Linked DNA regions of Homo sapiens: region 1 is linked to region 2. The links come from fine-mapping of genetic effects on gene expression. Tissue or cell type: whole blood. Region 2 holds a variant in brackets; the other region holds the start of a gene. All regions are shown on one strand. Distances are from middle to middle. Region 1 holds the start of CLIP4 (CAP-Gly domain containing linker protein family member 4). Region 2 overlaps CLIP4 (CAP-Gly domain containing linker protein family member 4).

Region 1 (12,540 bases), 45 kb before region 2:
AACTGGAGGGTCTGGGGAGCAGTGCCCCATGTAGGAACATGCAAATTCCTTTGTTAGTGTCTTCTCAGGAACTAGGGCTAAGAAAAGGGAAAATAAATTTATAGAATAGGGCCGGCATGACAGCTCATGCCTGTAATCCAGCAGTTTGGGAGGCTGAGGTGGGTGGATCAGTTGAGGTCAATAGTTCAAGACCAGCCTGGCCGTCATAGCGAAACCCCGTCTCTACTAAAAATACAAAAATTAGCCAGCCATGGTGGTGTGCATCAGTAATCCCAGCTACTCGGTAGGCTGAGGCAGGAGAATCGCTTGAACCGAGGAGGTGGAGGTTGCAGTGAGCTGAGATTGCGCCACTGCATTCCAGCCTGGGTGACAGAACAAGATTCTGTCTCAAAAAAATAAAAAAAGAATAAACATAGAATAGCATGAAACTAAACTAGATCAACTGAATGGAAATATCTGAGGAGGTCTTTAAGGGTTTATTTTGCAAAAGATATCCAGGTGATTCTAATGCACAACCAGGAATGAGAAGCCCCATTCAGATAATAAGTCTCGTGCGGCTCAATGGAGTCCTCTTCAGTTTGTGGTCTACTTCAGCAGGCAGTCCCCACCTGCAACCTTGACAAAGGAGATGGATTAGAGGAGGGCAAGCCCAGGTAGAAGCAGTAGGAGGTTCCTGGGGTCTCCAGTGGCTACTGATTTGTAAGGATTTCTATGGTATGTGAATTTACTTAATAAATGATATCATAAACTTTTTGAAGAATGAAGACAGGGAGTTTGGTTTGGAGAATCCAAAAATATGATAGGAAGAAAGGATGACTCCAGTGAGCAAAAAGAAGAATAGAGTTGCCATTTACTGACATAGGGAAGGTTATGGGGAAGGGTTCCATTTTGAACATGTTCTATTTGTGATATGTAATGTATGCTGTAGAATGGATGTTGAGTAGGCAGTTGGATATACATCTGAGGTTCAGGGCTGGAGATAGAAATTTGGAAATCAGGAAAACAGAGATGATATTTGTTTATTTATTATTATTATTTGAGATGGAGTCTCACTCTGTCCCCTAGGCTGGAGTGCAGTGGCATGCTCTCAGCTCACTGCAACCTCCACCTCCCAGGTTCCAGCAATTCTCCTGCCTCAGCCTCCCAAGAAGCTGAGATCACAGGTGCACGCCACCATGCCTGGCTAATTTTTGTATTTTTAGCAGAGACCAGGTTTTACCATGTTGGCCAGGTTGGTCTTGAACCCCTGGCCTCAAGTGATCCTTCCTCGGCCACTGAAAGTGCTGGGATTACAGGTGTGAGCCACCACGCCTGGTCAATATTTAAAGCCATAGACTGAATAAGGTCACCTAGTGAATGAGAAACTGACTTCCTGGAAACTGCATGAACAAGGTGCTTATAGAACCACTGTAAGGGTTTCTCTGAGGCATATCCAGGAGGGTGACTGCTGAGTCATAAAGCATACTGCTAATTTTTTTCACTAAGCACTGCCAGGTTGATCTGCAGAATATATTTACCAGTTTAAATTTCCATCAGCAGTGCATCTTTCCCCAGATCTTTGCCAATATTTGGGATTATCTTTCTGATTTCTGCCATGCTGGTGGGTGAAGCAGTGGTGTGTTGAAAACAGTTCATGAGAGCTGATAAAGCACATTTCTTCCCAACTTCTTGTTCAGTGACCTCAAGCTACACTGGTAGCTGGAAACTGGCAGTGCTCAGAGTATTTGCACCATGGAAATTGGCAAACACTGTACGTTAGGACTTTTCCTTCCCTGGGGAGCGGGTTTTAAAACATAGACCAGCATATTGGTGGCTATGGGGTCACACTCTTTATATTCCCACTCTGATTACAAGTGGGGTTGAGCATCTCTTTAATGCTTGCTTGCCATTCTGGCTTTTCCTTCTGTGAATTGTCTATTCTTATACTTTTCTCATTTTTATATTGGCCTTTAAAATATTTTATATTGACTTCCTTTTGATTTGTGAAAAGTTCCTCATGCATTTCAGATATTAATCCCTAGTTGCTTTTGAACATAGCACATGTTTTCTTCCAATTTGTCAGCCATCTGTTAATTTTTTCTATGGTATTCTTAACTGAACAGAACCCTTAATTGTGATGCAGTCAAGTCATACAATTTTTTTTTGCTTCAAGGATTGTGCTTTTGCAAACCTGTTTTATGAAGTAAATTCCTAACCCACATTATAGAGATAGTCTCCTGCATTTTCTTTTGTATCATATGTAGGTCTGCCATTTATCTGGAGTTCACCTTTGTATATGGCAGAACATGGGGCTCTCAACTTTATTTTTCCTTGATAAATTAAAGCCAGTTTCCCGAATGCCGTCTTCTAAATAATTTATATTTTTCTCATTGATCTGTGGTACCACCTTTGTGTAAATGGAGGTAGCATTTATACGTGGGTCTGCTCCTGAGTTCTTCATTCTGTTTCCTATTTGCTCTATGTGTTCCTATACCAGTACCATAATATTTTTATTACTATGTGGCAATGACATAATATCTGGCATGGCAGGTCTGCTCTGGTTTTTATAATTGACTTAACTGTTTAAAATTTATTTCTCCTTATATATTTTGTAAGTTTGTTGAGTTCCCTAAAAATTTAGTTTCTGCTGGAATTTTGGTTGCCATAACATTTACTTTGGAGACTAAATGGATACTTTTACAATGTAAAGTCATCCTATCCATGCTGTATCTCTCCACTTATTCAATATTTTATGTCCTTAAATAGAGTTTTAAAATTTTCTCCTTAAAGTTTTTGCAAGTTGTTGGGTTAATTCCTGGATATTATGCTTTAGAGTTTGTTAAACTTTATTGTTATTGTGAATGGTTTCTTATTGTCTGTTACATTTCCCAGTTGCTTACTGCTGATGTAGACAAAACTATTGATTTTTAGAAACTGATCTTGTACTTGGCAACCTTGCTGAGCTAACATTACTTCTAATACTTTGTTGATTCTGTTGGGCTTTTTATGCTGATGATCACACCTGTAAACATCACAGACAGGAAGATATTAGGGGCTCTGCCCAGTGCTCTGATCTTTTGCATTTAAGCACTTCTGCTAGTTGAACTCCAATCTGGTGCCCCAATTCTGACAGTTGGGTGTCTCTCATGGTCCTAAGGGCCTAGGCCCCCTATACACTCACAAATTAGAAACTGATGATATTCCATCCCATATCCAGTCCATGTAAAAGCAGTGACCTTGTCTTCTTTTGCTATTTCCTCTAACCCTTTTATCATGGTCGGGGTCCTGAGAGCTGCTGACAGATCTTCCTGCTGCCGAGTGTCTGAATTCCTGAATGCTGCTCTATGCAGCCATTCTGGGTCTTTAATGCCCCCAAAGACAGCCTGTGTAGGTTAGCAAAGTAGTGAATCAACATAGGCCTTCAGATCAGACAGACTTAGGTTTGAATCTTATTTCTGCCCCTGGCTACATGGAGCAAGTCACGCAGCCTCCCAGAGTCTGCTTCTTCATTTGTAAAGTGAAGACAAGATTTCCATAGGTCAAGTGCCTTACAGTGGTCAGTGAGTAATGCCCTTTCTCCACACTGTGATGTTGACCAGTAAGTTGATCACCTCCTGACGCTGTGGATTATTGCTATACTTTTCAGGAACTTTGTGTCTCCAGATAGAATTGAATCTCAGCAGCTACAGTTGGTCCACATCCCCATGTGCCTTCCCACCCCAATGAATAGTTCAAGTTCCAAGTTCTGGCCACATATCATTGTCCAGTCTCACTCTGGTTAACTGGGCAATACCTGGTTCTAAAGCTTGTATGTCACGAGGTATTCTAGGAAGCATGACTCCAACGAGCACTTGCATTCTTGATGATGGTATAAAGAAGTAACGTCAGATTTTTGAACAAAGGCAACTAAGTGAGTGGGAGACTCTGGTGGCTTGGTATCCTGGGAATTTGCCTATGTATCATACAGTGTTTGGGTGTAGCAGATAAAGCCAGTGGCCTGGCTGGTTCTAACAGAGATCTTTATTATAACTAAGAACAACTGAGCTAGCCATGCCTTGTCACCTACTAATAGTGGTATTTCAGATGGATAATTTAAATCAGCAATAAAAGTGAACTGTATACGTTTGGAAACTTCACCAATAGCTACTCTGTTACACACAGATCTTTATGACTTTCTGTGGTTCAATGACAATTGGCCTCATTTATAGGTGCTTGAAGCCAACCAAGGGCAGATTGCCTTCCTTCTTTTAACCAGCTAAAGAGATGGGTGGGTCAGACAAGAAGAGGGTATGATGAAAGCAGGGAAAGGGAGGTGGACTCTTCAGAGGGAGGAGGAAGTATCCGTGTCACATTATCTCTGAGAGCACTCGCAGATGCTGAGCCTGCAGAGACAGAGAAACTGGCAGCTGACCAGGGTCAGGGATGGTCATGTATTCAAATATTGTGGGTTTTAGTCAAGTGTGCTCCACCCGATTCAACAATGTGATGTGACTGCTCCTAGCAACTATTTTGATATGGTGAATGTTGTTAAGCATAGGACCTAAGAAGAGGTGGCAGTCTCTTTCCTCTCCGCACTTGGCAGGCCACCCACTCATTCCTGATAATCACATTTAAGAGAGCTCTGGACAAGCTGGAATGCATCCAAGAGAATCCCTCAACATGCTGGTGAGTGGGATTGTGACCAGGTCATATCAGGAGTAGCCTAAGGGACAGGTAATGTGTGTCTTGGATGAATTGGAGTCAGACTTAAGAGTCCCCAGGGCAGAAACAAAATCCAGTGAGGGAGAGATGCAGGGAGCTGGATTTTAGCTCCTAAGGTAGAAAATTTCCAAAAGGCTGATCAAAGATTAAATGGCTGCCTTAAAAGGTAATGAGTTCCTTGTTAGTGGAGGTGTTCAACCACTGCTTGGTGGGAAGACACTGTAAGGAGGATTCAGGCAAGTGGGAAGGGGGCTTTTTCCAGTCCCTGAAATCAATGATTCTAACAGGAAAAGATGCTCCGGGGTGCGGTGAGCGCTTACCTCTGCTCTTGCAGAGACACTGACAGACGTTCATTCAACATCTGTTCCTGCCAGGCACTGTGCGCGCTGAACACAGAAGTACAGCCTCTATGAAGCAGCCGCTGTAGGCCTCAGAGACAGCTGATAGATGTAACACTGTTGTCTCCATGTTTCAAACTTCGGTCATGGTCTTACTAGGTCTCCTCATTAAGGGGACTCACTATGTGTCCAGTAACGCTTTCTTGTTACCAGATGACAGAGAGTCAGGCTGTCAGAGTTCACGACTTTAGGTGCACAGTTTCACCCTGTCTGGTCCTTGGGAGACGGAGAAGGGGTCAGGAGAAAACGTGGGTGAAGAGGCAGCAAAGCCGCAGGAGATATGAACTAATTGCTCAACGTGGGTGTAGCACGGATTAGGCCTTTTACAGCAAGCGCTGCCAGCAGGGAACTGGTGGATGTACTCTTGACCACGCTCGGCTGGACTCTGGGGAGCCCAAGACGGGTAAGACTAGGTCCCCGGCCCCAGCAGCTGGTGGGGGCGCCGCAGGTTAGAGACGTGAGGCCGCGAGGCTGAGGGCTGTGAAGGCGGTGGGCACGCACGGCGTGCCGGGGCCGCCTGGCTTCGCGGCGGGGGAGGTAACACTGCGACACCCCGCAGACGCTGTCAGCCGGGGTCGCGGCCCCGCGTGCGCCCGATCATCTGACTGCTGGGGAGTGCGGGGGCGCGGGAGCCAGGCGAGCCAGCGCAGGCGCGCGCTGCCTCCTCCGTCCCCACCGAGTCCCCAGCGCGTGCGCGGGGCCGTGGCCGAGGCCTGCGCGCCGCCCGGCCGCCTGCACTGCGCGCGCGCCCACCCCGCGTGGGAGGCAGCGGGAGGGGCCCGGAGAGGTGTGGAGCGGCGCGGCGGGAGGCTCCGTGGGCGGCCACGGGAGACAGCGCCGGCGGGAGCGCGCCTCTCGGCCTTTCCTCCGCGCCCCCGCGTCCCCAGCCGGCCGCTCCGAGAGGACCCGGAGGAGGCAGGTGGGCCGGGGGCGCGCGGGGCCCCCCCGGGCCGCGGGCTGGCCGGCGGCGGGGTTGGGGCCGGGGTGGGCGGCCCTGGGGGCCCGCGGGGAGGTCAGTGGCCCCGGGAGGGTCGCGCAGAGGCGCTGGGGGCTGTGGAAGCCCCGCGGCCGCCTCCCGTGGGCACCGGTGTCGCTGGCCGCGGGGAGGCCTTCTCGGGGCGGAGCGGCCCACCCGGCGGGGATGGGGACTCCTCGTGGCGGCCGCTGACGGACGGCCCAACTTTAGGTTGAGGGGCGCGGGGTGTGCGGGACCCGGCGGCGGAGCTGGGCTCTGGGCCACGACCGCCAGCCGCGGCTGCCCCGAGAGTCCCCGCACGCGCAGTGGCTTTCCAACGCGGCCTCTTCCCATTTCTCACTTGACTCCCCTTGCGCATTAAATTGTCGAGAAACCTTTGGCCAGTGGGTCTTCAAAGCTAAACCAAATGGCTGTCCTTGCAGTCCTTGGCTACCTGAGATCCCTTAATTCTGAACCATCCGCACCTGGGAGGGGAAGTTGAAAGGAGCGCTGGAGCTGAGCCCGCATCCTTAAGGATCCCATTCACTGCTTATGATGGTAGAGCTTTGAATTAGATGTCAGGCTGTTCACGTCATCCAGACTCTGGTTTTCAGCTCTGTGCTGAGACAGTGTTTTGATACGTATCAGAGGATGATGTTCCTATGGGACAATAACTTGCTGTATGTTCTGAGATACTAGACTGCGTTCATATTGTAGCACCATCATCGTATAAAACGGGCGCCTTTGAAAGGTTTCAGTAAACACCTTCCTCAGGAACATCCGCCAGCACTTAAATTGTACTTCACTTTCACTTTGACGTTTGTTGTTTGTGAATCTTGTGCACAATTTAAAGTGAGTCGTCTAAACAGCACAGGATCACGTGGTGCGGGGCATTGAGCAACTGGGGAGGAAAGCAGAGACTTGAACCTGCTGGAGTCTAGTTGGTCTGCGTTTTTATGTTGGAGAACCATCCTGGTTCCAGCTTATTTTGCTTTCGTAAATATGATGCATTTTTTAAATGCTTTCATTTGATACGGTCTATCTGGACTGTAAGATTGAGTCTAGCCATGCATGGAATGTGTTTACTTCTGTTTTGTAGAAGATTTAGCCCATGGTATTCTATTTGTAGGATTCATTTCAGACATTTTGTGTTTACCACATACAGTCCCACCAGCAAGGGCTTTTAAAAAAGTGACCTATGTTGTCTCTCATAGCTTATGACAACTCCAATTTTGACACGTGTTTGAAACTAGTGATCTTTAGATTATATAAAATCAACTTCACTCTTTCTCCCTGTTCAAACCTCAAACTCTGGTTACTTTTAGGCTTACTGCTCCCTTGTTAATTATTTATAATGAACTATGGAGCTATAGGCTTGCTTTAGTGTGTTAACCTTTATTTGTGTCTTGTTTCAGGCATTTGTATATTGTTTTCTCATCTGGAGAGTGAGCTGCACTGTTTTCCTTCAGTGCTGTTTAGAAGAGCTTTCGGAGACCAGAAACATGTTCTTTTTGCATTACCCAATATGGTAGCACTAGCCACATATAGCTTTTGACCACTTGAATGGGGCTAGAGCAGTGGAAGCACTGAAATTTTAATATTTTTTTTCTTTTCCTTTTCTCTCTCTCTTTTTTTTGTTTTTGTTTTTTTTTTTTGAGACGGAGTCTCGCTCTGCTCTGTCACCCAGGCTGCAGTGCAGTGGCCTGATCTCTCCTCACTGCAATCTCTGCCTCCCAGGTTCAAGCGATTGTTCTGCCTGAGCCTCTCGAGCAGCTGGGATTACAGGCGCCTGCTACCACACCCTGTTAATTTTTGCTGTGGGGTTTCACCATATTGGCCAGGGTGGTCTCGAACTCCTGACCTGAAGTGATCTGCCCATCTCGGCCTCCCGAAGTGTTGGGATTACAGGCATGAGCCACTGCACCTGGCCAATTTTTAAATTAATTTAAATAGTCACATGTGGCTAGTAGTTAGCTGGTCAGATGCCACAGCTTTAACTTATTAGTCTCCAGGAAGCCTTCGTTGACCCTCTTGAATCTGTGCTTTCATAGGACTCAGCTGTCCTTGGTCATAGCACTTACTACTTTCAACTTTCTGGTAGGAATCAACACTAGGCTGTAATTTATATGAGGGCAAGGACAGATCTGGTTTCTTTACCTTTGCATAGCTTAGAACTTAGTAAGAAAAACTGAATAAATATTTGTTAAATGCATAAATAGCTTTTTCAGGGCAGGTATTTCAATTTTTAATTCTCTCTAAGGCCAACTAAGTGTTCAGTACTGTAAATACCTGTTTAGTAGATTGTACAGATGTTATGTAGGTAGCAAATAAAAGGATCATTGGAGTTATGCTTTAAATACTTACGTGGTGAGATTGGAATCTCAGGAGAATGATGACTCATAACAAAGTATTACAGGAAATTGAATGAAAGGGCCTCATGATTCCAGCTAATGTAGACACAGCTTTGGTCTCCTATTAGTTGAATAACTCAAGGACACTCTTGAACCATATCTCAAATCTGAAGTCTCCTGGCTTCAGTAAGGCCCTTTTATGGGGTCCAGACAGTCCTGAACCAGCCTGAAGATGCTAGTGGACATCCCCATTTATTACTGCTCTGTGTTAAAGCATGGACCAAGGAGTCTTGGAAAAAAAATCACAAGGTATTTGAGCCACGTTATGTAAGATGCTTTTGCTAACAGCTAACTTGGAGTGATGAGTAGGGTGAAATTCCTATAGAAATCAGAGTTTGGGGAATTTGATTCTAGCTATTGTTAGTATCAGAGGCACCTGTTCTGTAGACAGTTGATTAGTGCCAATTTTTTTTTTTTTTTTTTGAGATGGAGTTTCGCTCTTCTTGCCCAGGCTGGACTGCAGTGGCGGGATCTCGGCTTACCGCAATCTCTGCCTCCCAGGTTCAAGCGATTCTTCTGCCTCAGCCTCCTGAGTAGCTGGGATTACAGGTGCCCTCCACCATGCCCAGCGAATTTTTTGTATTTTTAGTAGAGATGGGGTTTTGCCATGTTGGTCAGGCTGGTCTCGAATGCCTGACCTTGGGTGATCCACCTGCCATGGCCTCCGAAAGTGCTGGGATTACAGGTGTGAGCCACCATGCCTGGCAGGGCCAATATATATATATATATTTTTAACCTGAGGCTTACTTTATAATCAGTTATCACCAGTTAACCATAGTTGGATTTGGAATGAAAGTGTGTACTCAGTTCAGATCAGTATACTTAGACATTTGACCAAGAGTCCAGGTGTTGTAGGTCTTCAGATCCAGGAATTGCTTTTAGGAAATGAATCTGAGACTATAAGGAAGTTTATAGGGGTACATAGTTTCCTTTGGGAGGACAAAAGGTAGAATGTTAAGTTTTTCACGAAAATAAGGAAATGTAACTAGAGAAAAACGCAACAAAGACAAAATACAAAGAATGTTCACTGCATTGGTCAGGTAATATTGTAGCTTCTTCTGGACTTGAAGTATCTAATATGTAAAAGAATGAAGCTGGTTACATCTGATTGCATGAATCCTCTTTCCACTTTGAATCTAAGCTTTGAATATTAGTTAAATATGTGTAACACACTATTCTAGCTCCTGTGGTGACTGCTAGTTGTGTACGATAGAGTTCGTATCTTTGAGGATCTCAACAGTTTACAAGGAAATGAAAGGTGCTCTGGGGATCACTTAAAATTTTTTTTTTTGAATGGGAGACTCCACCCTTTGAAAGGGAAGTCATGTGGTGACTCCTCTTAACCGACTCAGACAGATATCCACTGAATCTTTTTGCTGAAGAATTAAGAGTATAAAAACATGTCTGAGTCCCAAACCGTGATTATAGTCAGATTAATTTTCCTAAAACAGCTTTAATCATGTTACTCTCTTTAAAAAAATCAGTAGTTTCCCAGTGCTCATGAAAGTAAGTGGTTTGGTCTTTGATGAGGTATTTGCTCCTCAGTACAGCCCTAAAAAGCCCTTACAGCCTCACCTCTGACTGTTTTCCTAGTCATATCCCAAGTTCCAGCCTACTGTTCTTTTAATGGGATCCCCTTTTATATTGATACCTATTCATCATTCAAGACTCATCACAGATGATACCTTCTTCACCATTTATGATTCTTAGAAGCTCCAACTGCAAATGTTCCTGGTACTTATGTGATGGAGCAGATCCCATTCTGCCTCATAATCTATAGTTATTAGTGGTATTTTATTCACCTTAATAGATTGTAAACTACCTAAGAAGCATGGACCATCTGTTAACTCATTTTTGTATTTGCTGAAACATCTAGAATAGTGTCTTGTATATAGTGGTTCCTTAATAAATACTCATTACTGTTTGGAATTGATAGTATTTGAGGAAGATCACCGCTGCTCTATAACACTAATTCCATGAACTTGTCATTTTCCTATTTATGTGGCAAGGTTAATGTCAAAATGCTTCTAAGTATTTGGTGGTAAGTAATTTTAGCATCCAAGAAAATGTGAATACCTTAAAATAGTAACAACTGGATTAGGTTACCTAATATATAACATCTATATCCATATAAGCATACGATTTTTGAGGAAAAAGAAAGCCTCCTACTTTTTACCAGTTCCTGCCAGTATTAAGAAAACATGAATCAAGTTAGGAAGACAACAGTGAGCTCAATGAAATGACTGTTTTATTGTAGTGGGGAACTGATGGTAAGGATAATTGAGTTAGATATAGGGTTGGTTAAGTAGAACAGAGCACACATTAAGTAGTAGCTAGTATGGTGTTGTCTACTACCAGATCAAGCCATTGATTACCTATTTTTATTCTGTGCTTTCTACTGAAATAATCTAAACTCATTTTTCATTTAGTTTTATAATGTTTTGCTTACATTTTAAAAACAGGAATTCATGATACTTCAGATAGTAAAGATCGGATACAAAAGAAACTGGAAGGCTTTTAGCTTCATAAGTTTGGTTTTACTAGCAGTTTCTCTGCTTTCTACATCATTTCTGAGATGTAGGCTAGGGTGTAGTACAAAGTCTAATTTAGAGCAAATTTATTCTAAGCACTCATGTTTTCTGGGAAAAAGAGGTAATATAAGCCATGTGCTTTAAAAGGCATGGCTTCCATCTTTGGCCAGGATAGAACTCACATACCTCGGACCTTGTTAAGTTGAACAATCTTAGTAAACTCTTAGATTTGTAAGAGGGATATGATTAATTTTCAGTAAAGTTTTCTGGGATAGAAAATAATGGAAACATTTTAAGGTAGATTATCTTCATGTGATGAGCACATGGCATGAGCTATTGGATGACAAATGATGTAACTTGTGCCAGTGTTATGGGAAGTTAAAGATCCATCTACAAGGGTTAATACGCCCTTGTTTGTTACATGAGTAGGAGGATTTCACCCATTTAGATTAGCTCAGCATTTAAAGTGTTTTCACCTATTTTATATTCCTTTTGAGCTTTGTCTAGAGAGATTACATGTGCTACCGACTGGTATAAGAGGTGGTGTGAAGCAATGTATGCCTTTTAACAACAGTTTTGCCAAAAGGAATTTTTTCCCTTTCATAAAAGATCCTTACTGAAAATGTCAGCAGATTTGACGTCAAATAACTTTTAGGCAGTTATTGAAGGCAGTCATTCTAAGTTGCATACAAATAAAGTAGAAACACTTTTTTTTTCTTTCTTATTATAGGTGGCTTTCTAGAAGATGACCATAGAGGACCTTCCAGATTTTCCATTAGAAGGAAATCCTTTGTTTGGAAGATACCCATTTATATTTTCTGCTTCTGATACCCCAGTTATCTTTTCCATTTCTGCAGCACCAATGCCTTCAGACTGTGGTATGTGAAGTAGCTGTGCTTATTTTCTGTGAACTGGTAACTTGACTTCTCTGTTACGCCTTTTTTGCACTCATAGTCTTTCTTAGAACCATTTTTATGGTTTTCATAAAATTGCTAAAGTTTTCCTTTTTCAAAAATACAATTGCTTATTGCTTTTTCTGCTTCTTAAGCTAAATGCTTTATTTCTGCTGTCAGCATTTATATTATGTTAAAATGTTCATTTTAAGCATCATGATGGATTTAGAGGACTTTATTTTTAGAAAGCAATGGTGCTTAGATATCTAGCATTCTTCTGCTATTGATGTATTTATTTTGGTTAAATATACTGACTTGCTAAAAAAGCCATGTACTTAGGCAAAGAGGGTAAGAGACCCTTCCCTGGAATGTGAAATGAGATTGGTTAATGTTTAAATTGGTCCATTTACATCTCCTCTGTAAAATGTTAATTTAGAAGCATTCCACTTCTCATCTATTTAGGCTTATTTCTCCAGAACCATAATAAAAGGGAACCAGGAGATAAATTTGATAGAATTGTTAAATTTCCAGTTTAGAGTTTTTCAAGTAAAATGTTGGTTCACCATTTCAAATTGTTTTTGGAGGTAGAGATCATACAATTTTTACATATTAGTAGATATTAGTAGATATAAAGTTATTGGACTGAGAATTTGTCTTTTTAGTCATATTCGT
Region 2 (12,540 bases):
ATGAAAAAGTCAACACCTCTTACAAGGAAAAAGACAGTCCAAGCATAGCAGCTTTGAGATGACATGGACATTGCAATGAACACATAAAGATTTTAAGTAATGTAACCACACTCCAAGAATTAAGGGTGTAGCTGGGCATTGTGGTGCACACCTGTAGTCCCAGCTACTCTAGAGGCTGAGGCAGGAGGATCACTTGAGTCCAGGAGTTTAGGCTGCAATGGGCTATGATTGTGCCACTGCACTACAGCCTGGCTAACAGAACAAGACCCTGTTTCTGAACAAAAAAAAGAATCAAACGTGAACACTCTTGAAACAAATGAAAAGAAAGTTTCAGCCAAGAAATAGAAGATATGAAAAACAACCAAATGATACACCCAAGTGTATACACACACACACACACACACAAGAGTACAAGCAGAACTGTGGAAATCTCAGACTGGTGAATTGTATCACTGCCAACATCCTGGTTGACATATTATACTTATTATACCACAGTTTTGCAAAACATTACCTTTGGAGGAAACCTAGTCAAAATGTACAGGGAATCTCCTTGTATTATTTTTTATAAAAACTTTAAAGAAAATATTTTATAACTGAAAAATGTAATGAAAAATAAAAATTTACTCTTCAGGTTGCCTTCACAAAATGTCTCCTCTCCACCCTCTTCATTCAGTTTCTGCTGTTGGAGTTCAGGCTCTCATGCTTGGACTATGCTAATAATGTCTGACTGGTCCCTGCTTCCAGCCTCTCCCGCTGTGGTTTCGTTGCAGCCCTGCTGTCAGGAGAGTGTTATTTAACTAGACTCTGTTCATGCCAGTATTCCTTTTCAAAGCCCAGCAGAGGCTCCTTCTTTACAGAAGAGTTCTCAGTCCTTAGCTGGGCACTGGCATCCCTGTCTGAAGTGTTACTGTGACCTGTCTGTCTAGTCTTGCTTTTCCTACATTTCATAAGTACTCTGTTCCAGCCAAGCTACTCACTATTTTCTGTGTCTTAAGATTTTCTTTTTGTCCATCAAGAATGCCTGCCCTCAGTTCTTCCTGACCATACGGCTAGTATTCTCAGGAAGAAATCTGACCTGTCCCTTAGGACCCATCTCAGAATGTGATCATCTTGATGAGACATTAATTGATCTTTGTAGCCACTGTTACTGTCTCCTTCTCGTATGCTAGTGCTTATACCAAAACATGTCCTCATATGTCTGTGCAGTTGTTATCCAATATGTTTTCAGAAGTGAGTGAGATTTCGATAATGAGGGATGCATGTACTTTAAAAAATACATTTTATGTTTAATGTTAAAATTCTTGCTTAAAGTGTTTTATTTTTGTGTCCAAGGATTAATGACATCAAAAAAAGATAGTGCTTCTGAGTCAACACTTTCATTGCCTCCTGGTGAAGAACTTAAAACTGTGACAGAGAAAGATGGTAATATACCTTGTAACCTCTGTTTCTCAAAATTTAACTTTTGATGGAACTTTAAAATATGGTAGGAAAACAGTTTATATGGAGGTTAAGTTTTAAAGTTGGCAAGGGAAAAATTATAGTAAAAATTAAACTTGGAAATCACTGAAGCAGCTCATAGCAAGCTATATACATTATATTTTTTGTGTGTAAAGTACTGCATTATGATTCTTTTACTTAAATTAGATAACTACTGGACTAGATTTAAGAAAATAAACGGAAATTCCATAATATAGAGCACTCTACACAAATGTTTCATTTGCCTTTAGCTATCAAATCATTAGATGAATTGAGCATGAGTATTCCTTCTTGCCTTCTGGTTTAACTCAAAATGTCTTAATATTAAACTTTTGTTGCCTTAAAACATATTAATATCATGTTTAATTTTTGTATAAAAGGGGACTCTACTATGTCATCTAAGGTGAGAGGTGACTGATGGTCATTAGATTAGGTAGTCAGTTCACATCAATTGATGTGGTGATACCTCTTACATAAGATTGTGATCTTACCGTGGGAATCCTTAAAATATTATTGCTTGTGTTATAAAATCTTTTATATATAAACTACAATTGCTATTTGGATGAAATTAGGCATTTAATTTGACACTAGATAATCCATAATTGAGGAAGTTAAATGAAGAATTTCAGAAAGATTTGCCTTGACAAGCTGCTTCTTGGTCCACATCTTATTTTCCACCGTTTGACACGTTCTTTATCTGTTACAGTTGCCCTGCTTGGATCTGTCAGCAGCTGCTCCTCTACATCTTCTTTGGAACACAGACAGAGCTACCCCAAGAAACAGAATGCAATCAGCAGTAACAAGAAGACAATGAGCAAAAGCCCTTCCCTTTCATCCAGAGCCAGTGCTGGTATCTATGGCTTTTTCAACCAGGCTTTCTTGGTGTTTTTTATCTTGGTTTGTTTGTAAGTAGATTTGCTCTTTTTAAATGTGTAGAAGGAACCCTTTACTTCAATCAGATTGAACTACTTTTACTCTTCCCCACCTCCCCCGAACCTTAAGCCTTAAGGTCTCTTTGTTTTGCCGTCTCAGATATAAGACTTTGCATTTATTTTCATGTAATTCATTCTTAGTGGTTTTACCTCATCTGAATTTAGCTTCTTCACAGGCCTTTGTGTCATCTTCATATTTAAAAAGCATGCTTTCTGTGTTTTTATTCAAGTGATTGTTTTAAAACTATGTTTGCTTAAAACCTAGGAGAAGGTCAGAGGGTCCTCTCCCAGGATGGCAATACCAGCCAGTTTTGATATGGCTTTTTAACTAGCCGTGAACCTGCATAATCTCACTCAGTCCACATTTCTTCAGTTATTTGTAAAGATACGTAAAACACTTTATCAGACTTCTTTTCGAAATGACATAGATTTTGTCTGTTGCAGTTCACTTATTTGCCTATATAGCGAACTTGTCCAGAAAGGCAAAAGCCATCTTGGCAAAATACGTTCTTCATGAACCTCTTTATTACCAGATTCTTTTTTTAGTGCTTCTATTAATAGTTCTTGTAGTGAACCAACATTTTATTATGGAAAATATTCATGACAGATTTCTAAAAAAATACTTGATGGGAAGAAACCTCCAAAGCTCTCAACAATAACATTGACATAATAAGCCTAAAAACTGGGACCCTAAAAGTAGAGAACCTGAAAGTTTTCCCTGAAATTGTTTGCCTGGAATATTTATTCTCTGAGTGGCTTCCTCTCTCCATACCCCAACCAGTTTTTCTTTATGTTGTGAGGAGCAGAGGTGAGAAGGTACAGTGCTGACACAGCCATCCTGTTTGTCCAAATTTCATTCACATTTTAAGGCCCCCTTCATTTGGTATTTGCACTTTTGACATTTACTTGATTTTAAAATTTATACATGGGTATGGAATTACTTTTTTTTTTTTAACCTTCTAAACAAAGTAGTCTAGCGTGCCTATATATTTACCATTTAAAAAAATAAATTTGAGGGTTATGTCGACTTAAACAACAGTGAAGATGAAGAGAGTTATCAGAGTGAGAAAGAGGACCTTTCAAAGAGGGAGATGGGCCGAGAATGGGAGATATGGGAAAGTCTGTGTTGGGAACCCCAGAGACATGTACTTAAAACATGTTTCTCTAGTGAGTAGATATTCCACTTGTTTTATAGATTTGCATTTGAGGGAGATGTAGACTGCAGAGAACGAACAATAATGGAAAGTTAGGTTAAAAAATTAGAGAAAGAAGAGTGGAAATAAAGGATTCGGGGAATGGGAAAGGTAGGGACCTCGGCCTCATCATATCCCATTGTTATTTACTTTTTATTTTTTATTAAAGACAAGGTCTTGCTGTGTCGCCCAGGCTGGGGTGCAGTGTTGCAATCATAGTGACTGCAGCCTTCAACTCCTGGACCCAGGTGATCTTCCTACCTTGGCCTCCTAAAGTGCTGGGATTTACAGGCATGAGCCATCATGCCCAGCCTGTGTCCCACTGTTGAACTTGCCATCTTTGGTTCATTGTCTACAGGCGACAAGGGGACGGGCCTGAGGATTTCTGATCACAGAGTCTTGGTTTTAATCTAGGTGTACCACTTACTGGCTGTTAACAGTGTGTCTTAGTTAATTCCTGAGTTTGTATCTTATTTTTCAGCATAATTTTTAGGAAAAGCACTTTGTAAACTATGAAGTGCTATAGAATATTGGTTATGATGAGGGCCTCGGACTTACTGGTATAATCCAGACCTTCTCCATGGGTTTATTTTCCTTGTTTAGTTGCTGTGTTTTTGATTTCTTCTTTTTTCACAGTATGACTTACCCTCCATCCCATGCCCTCCTCCAGAGTTCTCTACTCCCTCTCAGATGGCAGCTCTTCAAATCTTTGTTTATGTACTGATGGGACAAGGCTCAAGCACCCACTTCTTCTCTTTCAGCTGTTATATTTGAACAGCTTTCTAGATCATATTTCTCTAGGACTTCTATGTTTAATAGTGGGCATTTCAAGGTTTAGTTTTGAATCAGGTTGACAGGGCAGTGGTTTTGTTCTTAATAACAAAATCACTTTAGGATAATTAGAACCGTATAGCAATTTAACCTTCAAATCACACTACTTTTGGCTGGTCACAGTGGCTCATGCCTGTTATCTTAGCACTTTGGGAAGCTGAGGTGGGAGGATCACTCAAGCCCAGGAGTTTGAGACCAGCTTGGTCAACACAGCAAGACCCTGTTTCTTTAAAAAAAAAAAAAAAAAAAAAAAAGTCAAATCACATGACTTTTTATATAATTTACACTGAGTCTAAGTGAACTATTAATACTATAATTCTAGTATTTTAGTAGAATAGAAATTGTCAAACTATGGCCCATGGGCCAAATCTGACCTACCACTTGTTTTTGTAAATAAAGTTCTTTGGAATGCAGCCATGCACATTTGAAAAAAATATATTGTCTATATCTACTTTCATGCTGCAACAGCAGAGTTCAATAGTTGTGGCAGAGGTGGTATGGCTAGCAAATCCTAACATATTTACTGTCCAGCAATTTGCAGAAACAGTTTGCTGTGACCCCTGTTCTAGTAGAGATGCTGCAGGCAATCTTGGAAGAGTTGGTAGTTTACCAGGGATCAGGTTTTGTGAATTTCCCATGGCAGTAATTTTCCCAGGAAACTCTTCACATTTCCTTTGAGCAGCTTGACCTCACATGTGAGAAACACAACTGTAGATGACTTATGTGATGAAAGGCATCAGATATCAAAATCACCAACTAACTAGACTAGTTAGAATACCTAGTGTGATTTTTTGGCTAATGTGCTTTTTGAGTTTTTCTCCCTTTGTTTTTTCTCCTCTTTTCCTGCCCTGCCCCTGTATCCCTCCCTGACTTAAACAGGTTTGAATTCCTCAGCAACATCTACAGCAAATAATAGCCGTTGCGAGGGGGAACTCC[G/T]CCTCGGAGAGAGAGTGTTAGTGGTAGGACAGAGACTGGGCACCATTAGGTTCTTTGGGACAACAAACTTCGCTCCAGGTAACTCATCTGCATATTTTCTTAACTTGAATTCTTTAGAGTACAAAAGGTTTAAAATTTTACATGTAAATAGAATTTAATTGTAGAGAAATCTTGATGAACAGTTTTTGTGGATGGCAGCTATAGTACAGAAAATGTGAAATGATGATGAAAACTCAGACTGTTTACTCACGTGGATGGTTACCCATACATTTTTTTCTTGCCATTTGTGTTTTAAATGGTCGGTGTTAAAAATTAGTTGTCATTCTCCAATTTTACTCTTACTGATTGCTGGGTGTGCTAAGTGACAGGCAAACATTTTAGGATTAGATTTTTGCTACGGATAATCTTTAAAATAAGTAGTAAATAATGAGTTAATTGTATACCTTTTTAAAAGAGTGGCTTGCAGAGAAAAGCACACAAAAGGGCTCAAAATACATGTTTTTGGGGCCCTTAAAAATACATGTTTGTGTATTTATATATTCATTCCAATCTATACGTAACATTGTTTCCAAAAGTAAAGATTACTTTCTATTTTTTTTTTTGAGACGGAGCTTCGCTCTTGTTGCCCAGGCTGGAGTGCAATGGCATGATCTCAGCTCACCGCAACCTCTGCCTCCTGGGTTCAAGCGGTTCTCCTGCCTCAGCCTCCCGAGTAGGTGGGATTACAGGCATGCGCCACCACGCCCCGCTAATTTTGTATTTTTAGTAGAGATGGTATTTCTCCATGTTGGCCAGGCTGGTCTCGAACTCCCAAACTCAGGTGATCTGCCCGCCTTGGCCTCCCAAAGTGCTGGGATTACAGGTGTGAGCCACCGTGCCCAGCCAGATTGCTTTCTTTTGTGTTGTCAATGATTATAATTTTAAACAGAAGTCGGTTGAACAAAACCAAGTTTGTATGTTTAGATAGCAATATGCTATTTTAACACATGGTGGCATTGCAGCATTTTAGGAAAAGGTTATCTAGAACATTGATTAAAAAAAAAAAAGTTTGTAGCATTTAGCCAAGAACTATGAGGGATCTGAGATTTTACCCTATTTGCAAGCTAACAAATTCGCCTGCCACAGTTTCATAGATGTTGGTGGAAGATACTGTGAGTACTAGAGTCATCACAGGTTTGAGACAAAGCACTCTAGTACTCACAGTCATAGCAGTAGCCAGAGTATCAGCATTTTCTTGAACTATTATTCCCTTAGTGCCAATTCCCACAGGGTGAGAGCGAGCGAGCCAGGTGTCACCTGCACAGCCAGTGTTTTTTGTTCCAGGAGAGGACCCTAGAGCTTAGGGAATCTGAATCTTTGAACTTATGGTACACATCCCTGCCATTTGCTCTGGTGGGAGATGCTAGCTCTATCCTCCAAGGCTGTCCCCTATACAGATGTTTATGAAAAGGTAGTCTAGAACGAAAGTAGTCACTGCCTCTACCCATAAGACATGCGGAAACATGACAGGACCATAGGCGACTGTCTCCCAACACAGTCTTGTTTCACTAATACCACTTATAATTGCAAGCCAACTGCGTGATTTGAGTTAGGTGTTTTATAATTCATGACTTTCTTAGGTCTCCAGGTAGTAATTGAGATTAGTTAGGATATACTTAATATAGGATTCAAATAAAAACTTAACCGCACAGGTAGGTTATTTTTTTACAATTACTATTTGTCTTTTGAGTTCCCTTTCTCTGATGTTATTAAACCAAGATAGAATGGTTTGATTCTTTGGATATAATTCTTCATTTTAGGTTGATTTCAGTTTTTAAATTCCTAATGTAAAGCATTTAGAAATTTGGGAAGTAGTAAGCAAATATAATAAAAAGTGGAAACTTTTTTGTTAAAAACATTCTGTCCTGTAAGGAAGTAGTAGCATTAAAAATTAATCACTGCTACAGAACAGTGGTAATATCTTAAGTATTTGGAGGTTATAAGATCTAGATTTGAGGGAGGTCATATTTGGTCTCATCAGCATTTTTTATCAGTGCCACCTTGGAAAGAAAATTAACATTTAAATGGGAAGATATCCATACCACACCACTGCCAAAGTGTAGTCTTTATTGTTAACACTTGTCATATGTATTTCTGCTGTATGCTACATGTTTCCAAGAGTTACATGGTTAACATTAGCAATTATATGGTAAATTAAAATGGGAAAATGCAAAAATTATATAGGAAAGCATAAAAGGCAGAAGCAAGTAAAACTTGGAAAATTGTAACTGTAGCACTGAGAAATAACAGTGGCAACCAGACTAACCTGGTTTAGGACATGTGGAAATGTGATGACCTATGTTCAGAGCGTTAGTGCAGCTTAACAATAGTTTTGTAACATTACTTGTATTACATAGTAGGAAATGGACTCAGGTATCATCTTTTTATACATAGAGGAAAAAAATTAAGAACTTGTGAGTTGGTTTTTTAGAAGGCATATAATTAACTCTTTGAACTAGTAATCTGGAAGAAACACTATTTTTGTAATTTGTAATAAGTTTCTTGATATCTATCTCCTGTTTTTTTACTTGATACTGATTATAAGAGACCAAATCCAATTACTACTGTACACTCCTTTTAAATCACAAGTAAATGGACTACTAGATACTTCTAATTGGTCTTGAGGCACCCTCAATTAGAAAATCCTTATTTTAGGATTTTGTGTCCATTTACCTTATATTGGGTAAAACCACATTTAAAGCAACCTTGCTACTTTAATTTTAGGCTGTCTAGAAAAGGAAATCCTGTTATTTCCTTCAGAGTAGGTCCTTTTAAATACAAAAAGTCTTTAAAATAATTCTCCCTATTAGCTAACCTAAACCTTTTCATTTAGGTAAAAAAAAAAAGATTTTTCTTTTTACCTTGGGTGGAAAAAAGAAAAGAAAAAGCACTCATCATGATGTCTAGTGGTATTTTCTATAATATTTTTGTCCTTCTTTAATTATTTGAGCACTGTTTGTGGTGTTCTAATGTTAGGTGAGTAAGATGAAAAGATTGCATGTTCATTTTATGATTTTTAAATCTCAATATTATGTTTCACTTCTTTCACTGAAACACTATATTACCAAGTCAAGAACAGTTTTTCACTGCAGCTTTTAGATATATTTTGGTCATATACTGTTTACACAATTGCCAATTCTTGCCAAATTTGTGTTTGTGCATTTTATTTTCCTCCTTTAATGTACTGCTCTGCAATTATGCTTGTAAAATGTTTTTCCTGTTCACTTTTTGAATTTTCAAAGTTTACAATTTTATAATTTGAAATCTTAATGAGTATCATGATCTTCCCTCATTTTGGTCATTTATGGAAATGTTAAAACACCTCGACTTTGGTTTTGTATAGTAGCATAAGAGTTTTGGATAAAGTACAGATGCTTTTGAAATGCAATATTCATGTTCTAGGATATTGGTATGGTATAGAGCTTGAAAAACCCCATGGCAAGAATGATGGTTCAGTTGGAGGTGTGCAGTATTTTAGCTGTTCTCCAAGATATGGAATATTTGCTCCCCCATCCAGGGTGCAAAGGTGAGAGAATGAAATTTATGTTTATTTACAGAAACTTTTTGTAATCTGCAGTGGTTAATAGAGACACTAATTTTATATTAAAGATATGCTCTGATTGTAGCTCATGTCTTCTTTCAAGGGGTTAACCAACCACCTTCTTCAGAGAGAAGGCTCATGGAAAGCTAAATTTGCTTTGCTGAGGATTTGCAATTTTAAAAACCTCCTTTATTCCTCATTTGCAAACCCTATGAGTATGTGTAGGCTATTAGAAGTGGCGTTTGCAGCTAAGTACAGTGAGAGCAGCAAGCTTAATCTGTCATGCAAACAAAAGTAAAAATGCTCTCTGATTGCTTCAGTCACATCCTAACTACATTAAATTTCCTGCCAGCAGGCACCCCATTCATTCTCCTACAAACCTAATGGAACCAAAATGGCTTTTTCCTCTGATTTCTTTAGTTTTCAAAAATAGATAGGCAGTAGATCTTTGGGGGAAGTGAAACTTCAAGGATTTTTATATAATATATCTCCTTGGTGTTTCTTCTTAAGATAGTATCTTTCATACCACCTCATCCGGTTTTAAAAAATAAGTTGAGCAGAAACAAAGTCCTCATAAAATTCCAGGTATCATTATGTGAAATGGCTTCTCTTATGCTCTGGAAGAAGCTGCTTGGTGTGCCTTTTAGCGGATGGGAAATGGGATACTAATCTTTAAATGAGAGATAACATATATGGCATAATCACATTCATGAGACTAGACCTACGATCGCAATCTGGGAGTCTTGTCTAGTTTTCCCTTACAACTAGACTGTTGTGACTATCTCCTGGCAGATTGAAGTTTTACATCCATTTCTCCCTCAATTTCTTTTTCTGAGTGAATCATTACATATTTGTTTAGTATTAATTTCCTTCTATGATATACTTGACATAATTTTCTTCATATTTATGGTGATAACAGAATTTAACATACAATACTTTGTAGTTTATAAAGTATTTTCACTTAAGTGTTGTTTCATTTGATCCTAATATTGATCAGGTAAGCTGGAGAATAATAACTATTACAAACATTTGTTGAGCATTTAGTGAGTGGGTGGGCTCTGTACAGTGTGCTTTAGATGCATACCTCATTAATTCCCCCAGACCCTGCGAGCTGTAAGTTATTAGGATCATTCCCATTTTGCAGATGAAGAAACGGGTTTCAAAGAGATAAGTGATTTAGCTAAAGTCATACAGCTAATTAGCCAAGGAGCTGGACTCAGCCCAGGTGTGTTACTTTGTAATTGTTTTTTCTGTAAGCCCTTGCTTTTAGATGGTTTGTTCTTTCTTTCTTTCTTTTTTTTTTGTATTTGTTTTATAAATGAAGAAAAGGAAGCAGTAACTACGAATAGTGCTTATACATGCTGGGGTCTGTTTGCAGGGCCCTTCATGTATTAACCTGTTTACTGCTCTCCAGTAACCCTGTGGTGCAGGCACCATGTTCCCTCAATGAGGAAAGTAAGTCACAAGGGGTGACATGTGCTGTGCTCCCAGCTGGGGATTTGAACCCAGGTAGTCTAGTATCAGCATGTGTGCCCTTAACCGTAACCCTATAACGGTTAGAAGAGCTTCAGGGACCTTCGTCAGGACATACATCTTGTAAATAATTGGTTTGGGAGTAAAATGCATGCTGAGTCACCAGTGAATCTTCTGTGTTCTCATGTTACTTTGGGCATATCTTCATCAAAACATTGCAGCAGTCTCTTACAAGTTTTGTTTGTTTCCTAGTCATGAGGACTGGGATTCTGCTTTTCATGTTTGATTACTCAGAGTACATAGTTTGGCATATTTTAGGCACGGTAAATATTGATCCAATCTGATTCCTAGTTCAGTGGTTTTATGCTGTAACAGCTTTTTCCTCCTCCTTTACGTTGTCAAGCCACTTTCTCATGGTTTCATCTTTTCCTTCTTGCTTTGTTTCTGGAGCACACGTTTTTTACTTTTTTTTGATTGCCTTCTATTTGGTTTTCTTTAAGGTGGTGCATTTAAAAAGCAGCCCCCTCTTCTTCAAAAAAAAAAAAATAGGGCTGTCTCTAAATGAACTGCTATCTCAATCCAGCTGTCTTCCTGTCATCTTCTGATTGTCTCATTCATCATCATCAAATACTATTAAGTGTCTTTTAGCACTTATGCTGTGCTAGGCATTCTATAAGCGAATAAAACAGACATGGTCCCTGATTTTGAGGCGTTTCTAATCTGAACCAGCTTTGGAACTCTTGAAAGATACCACTGATCTTCAAGATGGAAGAATTTTAAACTAGGGACTGCTTGAGGACAGTCTTAATAAGGTAGTGTCCAGTCACAATCACACCTTGCATCTTCTTCCTTCTCAGGACTATGGCTGGCCTTTCCCCCCACCCCTTTCTGTTTGTAAAATGTGCTTCCTATCCCAGAATCTTTGCACATGTTATTTTTTCTGCTTGGATGGCTTTCTACACCCGCCTACTATTGCCTAACTTTCACTTATTTAATACCTTTCTTCTGCTAATATATGAATCAGTCAAAACTTCTTTAGAGAAACTCTAGGAAAACTCACTGACTAGGTTAATCACATACACACACAGACACACACACACACACACACACACACACACACTGCTCAAGTAATCTTCATTAGCATAATATTCACTTTCTTAGTTCTTACTATTATTAGGCACTTACTACTAATGAACTGATTACTTCTAGAATTCACTCCCTCTCAACTGTCTGTTACTACTTCATTCAAATATCCATTCTCTTCATAAAATCATATTCTTTGTGTCCATCAGTCTCTCATTGCAGTATGTTGTATATCATGTAAAAATGATGCCTATGAATTGTAATGTGAAATTGCAAATATTTCAAGAGTTGAAGGATTTCTTGATGGTAATAAGATATGCTGGAGGAAGTGATTGACAAATGAAGGCTTTCCAGATTTAGGTCACTAAACAGTTGAAAGAAAATGAGCCTGTCAGGATTGACTTTTTAAAGATAAAGAATGATTTGAATATCAAAAAATGCAGGAAAATCCACTGGGAAAGTGACCTTTATAATTGTGGCTTAGAGTCAAGTATAAAGTAAAAGATGTTGAATTGTATTAGCCATATAGTTTTACCAGAAAAATCACTCACACAAACTCAGCCAATATCTTTTTCTTTCAGCTTAAGAATTAGTGCCTTTTTCACAATATTAATCTAACATTTGTTAAGTTTAATATAAAATAAACTTATTTTCATATTTTTTAGTTTCACCTTTGAAGATGAGGTTACAAAGAAATTCAGGTCCATATTTTAGGTGAATTCACTTGAATTTTTTTCTACACTAATTATCTTTAGATAGTGAGAACCTCTTCTATTTAATTATTGTTTTTCTTCCATGCCAGATGGAAGTTCATTCCTGGCTTAAAATGGACCCTCCATAAATATTTGTCTGATGAATGACTACAATTGGTGTGAAAAACTTAGTTGATAACCAGTCTTAAACCTGAAGACCAGCTACTTCTAACGAGATGTCCTTTGTTTTATTCATAGAGTAACAGATTCCCTGGATACCCTTTCAGAAATTTCTTCAAATAAACAGAACCATTCTTATCCTGGTAAGACTACACAGTTTTGTG

The links.
Region 1: CLIP4 starts here. The variant in region 2 is fine-mapped to the expression of CLIP4 in whole blood (INTERVAL, PIP above 0.99).

The regions. Positions count from the first base shown.
Region 1 is chr2:29,109,669-29,122,208 of GRCh38, forward strand. CLIP4 (CAP-Gly domain containing linker protein family member 4) reads left to right here and starts at 5,747. Exons shown (of 16, transcript NM_024692.6): 1 at 5,747-5,997; 2 at 11,706-11,853. The coding sequence starts at 11,721. It overlaps LOC105374386 (a long non-coding RNA gene), which reads right to left and starts at 5,076. Exons shown (of 3, transcript XR_007086265.1): 1 at 5,001-5,076. RefSeq lists silencers at 5,608-5,967, 6,158-6,397.
Region 2 is chr2:29,155,022-29,167,561 of GRCh38, forward strand. CLIP4 (CAP-Gly domain containing linker protein family member 4) reads left to right here. Exons shown (of 16, transcript NM_024692.6): 10 at 1,333-1,422; 11 at 2,183-2,326; 12 at 5,312-5,446; 13 at 8,810-8,933; 14 at 12,455-12,519. Among named protein-coding and RNA genes, the nearest start is that of CLIP4, 46 kb to the left of the region's middle. The variant G/T (reference allele first, on the strand shown) is at 5,369.